2 separate regions of the Homo sapiens genome follow, and region 2 is linked to region 1. The links come from fine-mapping of genetic effects on gene expression. Tissue or cell type: whole blood. Region 1 holds a variant in brackets; the other region holds the start of a gene. All regions are shown on one strand. Distances are between the middles of the regions.

Evidence for each region. PIP is the estimated chance that this variant, and not a neighbour inherited with it, causes the effect.
Region 2: it holds the start of PIGB, and the variant in region 1 is fine-mapped to the expression of PIGB in whole blood (TOPMed, PIP above 0.99).

The regions. Positions count from the first base shown.
Region 1 is chr15:55,443,558-55,446,317 of GRCh38, reverse strand. The region is part of intron 6 of DNAAF4 (dynein axonemal assembly factor 4); the gene reads left to right. The region is part of intron 5 of DNAAF4-CCPG1 (DNAAF4-CCPG1 readthrough (NMD candidate)); the gene reads left to right. Among named protein-coding and RNA genes, the nearest start is that of PIERCE2, 36 kb to the right of the region's middle. The variant T/C (reference allele first, on the strand shown) is at 1,131.
Region 2 is chr15:55,317,797-55,320,296 of GRCh38, reverse strand. It overlaps PIGB (phosphatidylinositol glycan anchor biosynthesis class B), which reads right to left and starts at 1,075. Exons shown (of 12, transcript NM_004855.5): 1 at 884-1,075; 2 at 1-22. The coding sequence starts at 1,046. PIGBOS1 (PIGB opposite strand 1) reads left to right here and starts at 1,174. Exons shown (of 2, transcript NM_001308421.2): 1 at 1,174-1,433; 2 at 2,430-2,500. It also overlaps a transcript of RAB27A not described here. RefSeq lists enhancers at 816-895, 966-1,045, 1,106-1,195, 1,246-1,315.

The sequences.
Region 1 (2,760 bases):
GCCCAGCTGCCCCCCCCCCCCGTCTGGGATGTGAGGAGCGCCTCTGCCCGGCCGCCCCGTCTAGGAGGTGAGGAGCGCCTCTGCCCAGCTGCCACCCCTTCTGGGAAGTGGGGAGCGCCTCTGCCCGGCCACCCCGTCTGGGAGGTGAGGAGCGCCTCTGCCCGGCTGCCGCATCTGGGAAGTGAGGAGCGCCTCTGCCTGGCTGCCCTGTCTGGGATGTGAGGAGCGCCTCTGCCCGGCCGCCACCCCATCTGGGAAGCGGGGAGTGCCTCTGCCCGGCCACCCCGTCTGGGAGGTGAGGAGCGCCTCTGCCCGGCCACCCCGTCTGGGATGTGAGGAGCGCCTCTGCCCGGCCGCCCCGTCTGGGAGGTGAGGAGCGCCTCTGCTCGGCCGCCCCGTCTGGGAGGTGAGGAGCACCTCTGCCTGGCTGCCGCATCTGGGAAGTGAGGAGCGCCTCTGCCCGGCTGCCCCGTCTGGGATGTGAGGAGCGCCTCTGCCCGGCCGCCACCCCATCTGGGAAGCGGGGAGCGCCTCTGCCCGGCCACCCCGTCTGGGAAGTGGGGAGCGCCTCTTCCCGGCCGCCCCGTCTGGGAGGTGAGGAGTGCCTCTGCCTGGTGCCCTTCGTTTGGGAGGTGAGGAGCGCCTCTGCCTGGCCACCCCGTCTGGGAGGTGAGGAGTGCCTCTGCCTGGCCGCCCCATCTGGGAGGCGAGGAGCGCCTCTGCCTGGCCGCCCCATCTGGGAGGTGTACCCAACAGCTCCGAAGAGACAGCGACCATCGAGAACGGGCCATGATGACGATGGCGGTTTTGTGGAAAAGAAAATGGGGAAATTTGGGGAAAAGAAAGAGAGATCAGATTGTTACTGTGTCTGTGTAGAAAGAAGTAGACATAGGAGACTCCATTTTGTTCTGTACTAAGAAAAATTCTTCTGCATGGGATGCTGTTAATCTATAACCTTACCCCCAACCCCGTGCACTCTGAAACATGTGCTGTGTCAACTCAGGGTTAAATGGATTAAGGGCGGTGCAAGATGTGCTTTGTTAAACAGACGCTTGAAGGCAGCATGCTCGTTAAGAGTCATCACCACTCCCTAATCTCAAGTACCCAGGGACACAAACACTGTGGAAGGC[T/C]GCAGGGACCTCTGCCTAGGAAAACCAGAGACCTTTGTTCATGTGTTTATCTGCTGTCCTTCTCTCCACTATTATCCTATGACCCTGCCACATCCCCCTCTCTGAGAAACACCCAAGAATGATCAATAAATACTAAAAAAAAAAAAAAAAAAAAAGGGTATTCAATTAGGAAAAGAGGAAGTCAAATTGTCCCTGTTTGCAGATGACATGATTGTATATTTAGAAAACCCCATCGTCTCAGCCCAAAATCTCCTTAAGCTGATAAGCAACTTCAGCAAAGTCTCAGGATACAAAATCAATGTGCAGAAATCACAAGCATTCTTATACACCAATAACAGACAAACAGAGAGCCGAATCATGAGTGAACTCCCATTCACAATTGCTTCAAAGAGAAAAAAATACGTAGGAATCCAACTTACAAGGTATGTGAAGGACCTCTTCAAGGAGAACTACAAACCACTGCTCAACAAAATAAAAGAGGACACAAACAAATGGAAGAACATTCCAAGCTCATGGATAGAAAGAATCAATATCGTAAAAATGGCCGTGCTGCCCAAGGTAATTTATAGATTCAATGCCATCCCCATCAAGCTACCAGTGACTTTCCCCAAAGAATTGGAAAACAAACTACTTTAAAGTTCATATGGAACCAAAAAAGAACCCACATTGCCAAGACAATCCTAAGCCAAAAGAACAAAGCTGGAGGCATCATGCCACCTGACTTCAAACTACACTACAAGGCTACAGTAACCAAAACAGCATGGTACTGATACTGAAACAGAGATATAGACCAATGGAACAGAACAGAGCCCTCAGAAATAATACCACACATCTACAACCATCTGATCTTTGACAAACCTGACAAAAACAAGAAATGGGGAAAGGATTCCCTATTTAATAAATGGTACTGGGAAAACTGGCTAGCCATATGTAGAAAGCTGAAACTGGATCCCTTCCTTACACCTTATACAAAAATTAATTCAAGATGGATGAAAGACTTAAATGTTAGACCTAAAACCATAAAAACCCTAGAAGAAAACCTAGACAATACCATTCAGGACATAGGCATGGGCAAGGACTTCATGTCTAAAACACCAAAAGCAATGGCAACAAAAGCCAAAATTGACAAATGGGATCTAATTAAACTAAAGAGCCTCTGCACAGCAAAAGAAACTACCATCAGAGTGAACAGGCAACCTACAGAATGGGAGAAAATTTTTGCAATCTACTCATCTGACGAAGGGCTAATATCCAGAATCTACAAAGAACTCAAACAAACTTACAAGAAAAAAACAACCCCATCGAAACATGGGTGAAGGATATGAACAGACACTTCTCAAAAGAAGACATTTATGCAGCCAACAGATACATGAAAAAATGCTCATCATCACTGGCCATCAGAGAAATGCAAATCAAAACCACAATGAGATACCATCTCACACCAGCTAGAATGGCGATCATTAAAAAGTCAGGAAACAACAGGTGCTGGAGAGGATGTGGAGAAATAGGAATACTTTTACACTGTTGGTGGGACTGTAAACTAGTTCAACCATTGTGGAAGACAGTGTGGCGATTCCTCAAGGATCTAGACCTAGAAATACCATTTGACCCAGCCATCCCATTACTGGGT
Region 2 (2,500 bases), 130 kb after region 1:
TAAATATTTTCTCCAAGAAGATCTGAAAAACAGAACAAAACAGGTAATAGTGGCACAAAAGTCAGGCAGTTCCACTTGCAAAACTTAAAATCTGCTGCTCTGGTTGGCTCCTTGTAAGGCACAGTAGTGACCTCTGGTCCCTCCACACCATTCTTAAAGCCAACTTGGTTGGTTATACAAGCACCACAGCGTCATCACTGGGTGACTGCCACTCTTTTAGTTTAACCAACTTTTCTTGCAACTTATTGTGTAAAGATAATATTAAAATAAATACAAAAAAAAAAGAGTGGGTTAACTAAGGCCTTAGGCTAATTAATTAGGTCATACTATGTGTGTATCTAATGAAAGAAACCAGCTAACAAATTACTAATTTGGGAAGCAGCCCTTTGTATATGTGCAATATAAAATGGTCCTCTGTACATATATATTGATGATTACTATTATATATGCCAGGCACTGTGTTAATTTCTTCACATGCATCTCACTTAATCCTCCAAACAATATTATGGGATAGGTATTATTAGCCCCATTTTACAGACGAGCAAATTGAGGCCCAGAAATTAAACTGCCTTGTCCAAATAAAGTTGTAAATTACTTATCAGGATTCAAACCCGGGTCTGTGTGATGTCTCCAAAGTCCTGCTCTTGACCACAAATGGACAGCCTGTCGGCCAAATACAGAGTATTTTTTAAAAAATTGAATTTAGTTGCCAACATTTAAAAATCAGAATTTATATTAAAATCTGTGTTTCCAGCATTTCCCAGCATTTCAAAACTCAAGATCTGGCAACACAGAGCTCAACGGGCAACTGGCTGGTAATGAAATGGAGGGGGTTCCTTTTAGATGGGGGTAGGAGCTCTCCAGACAGTGTCCCCTCACTCACCCCCGCGGCGCCTGGCGCTCTTCTCCTGGGTGTTGAAGTACAAGGTAGACTTTCTCTTTCGCAGCTTTATCTTGCCGTGGGAGCGGTTCTGGAGACCATGCAAAGTGAGGCTGGCATCTCCGCCCCCCGGCTCCATTCCGCACTTGCTTAGGGGCCTCCTCATCCCTGGCCGCCACCTTCCTAAGGCGGAAGAAAGCTGCAGTAGCGCGCTGCTCGTCCATCCATTAAGTTTGGCCTTTGAGAGCAGTCGTCGCTCGCAAGCCCGGAAGTAACCGGGAACGGGCAACTTCGTAGCTCCCACCCGACGTGGTGGCCTCCTTGCGGTTTCCTTTCGCCGTTTCCGAACCGAGGGATTGCTACTCGCCTTTGGCTTGGCGGTCTCTGTGCTCGGGGGTCCGAAAACTGCTGGAAGGCCCCCGGTCTCTGGAGGGGAGCAGGCGGTAGCGAGTTTAGTGACGTGGAGCAGGCGCAGAACAGTCGGAGGTACCTGAGTGGTTATTAAAAACGGTAACGGTAATTGTAGACGTCAGTGTTGGTGTTAACATTTCAGGTTCGTTGCTCTCACAAAAAATGCCTGTTCAACGAGGTAGGCAGGGTAGGGATGATTTAGCTTGTTGTACAGATGTGGAAACAGGCCGAATGGTTCCTATTTTTTTTGTTGTTGTTGCTGTTGTTAGGTTTTTTTTTTGTTTTTGTTTTTGTTTTTTTTTTTGAGACGGAGTTTCGCTCTTGTAGTCCAGGCTGGAGTGCAGTGGCGCAATCTGGGCTCACTGCAACTTCTGCCTCCCGGGTTCCAGTGATTTTCCTGCCTCAGCTCCCAAGTAGCTGGGACTACAGGCGCGCCACCACGCCTGGCCAATTTTTGTGTTTTTTTGTAGAGACGGGGTTTCACCATATTGGCCTGGCTGGTCTGGAACTCCTGACCTCGTGATCCGCCCGCCTCGGCCTCCCAAAGTGTTGGGATTACAGGCGTGAGCCACCGCGTGCGGCCCACTCCTCTTGTTAAAAGTAAAACCAGGCCGGGCGCGGTGGCTCACGCCTGTATTCCCAGTACTTTGGGAGGCCAAGACGGGCGGATCAGGAGGTCAGAGGATCGAGACCATCCTGGCTAACACGGTGAAACCCCGTCTCTACAAAAAATACAAAAAATTAGCCGGGTGTGGTGACACGCGCCTGTAGTCCCAGCTTCTCGGGAGGCTGAGGTAGGAGAATGGCGTTAACCGAGGAGGCGGAGCTTGCAGTGAGCCGAGATTGCGCCATTGCACTCCAGCCTGGGCGACAGAGCGAGACTCCGTCTCAAAAAAAAAAAAAAAAAGAAAAAGTATGCATTTAAAACCATTGAGAACATTCTGTAATAGAAAAGGTTTTAGTTTTGTCTTATACCCTTCCCTAATTCACTTCCTGTACTCCTTATGTATTTATATTCTTGTTTTAATTAGTAACATATTATAAAAATATTGTTCACTCCAGTGCAAAGTAGTGACATAACATCTTTTAAAAGGACATTGTACTAAGTGATGGCTTTGCTTTCCATTTTTGTATGCAGATTTGAAGAGATTTCCTGGGTGTGGAGTGTGACTTTCCAAAACCAGCTTTTCCTTGAGCTGTATTTGTTGC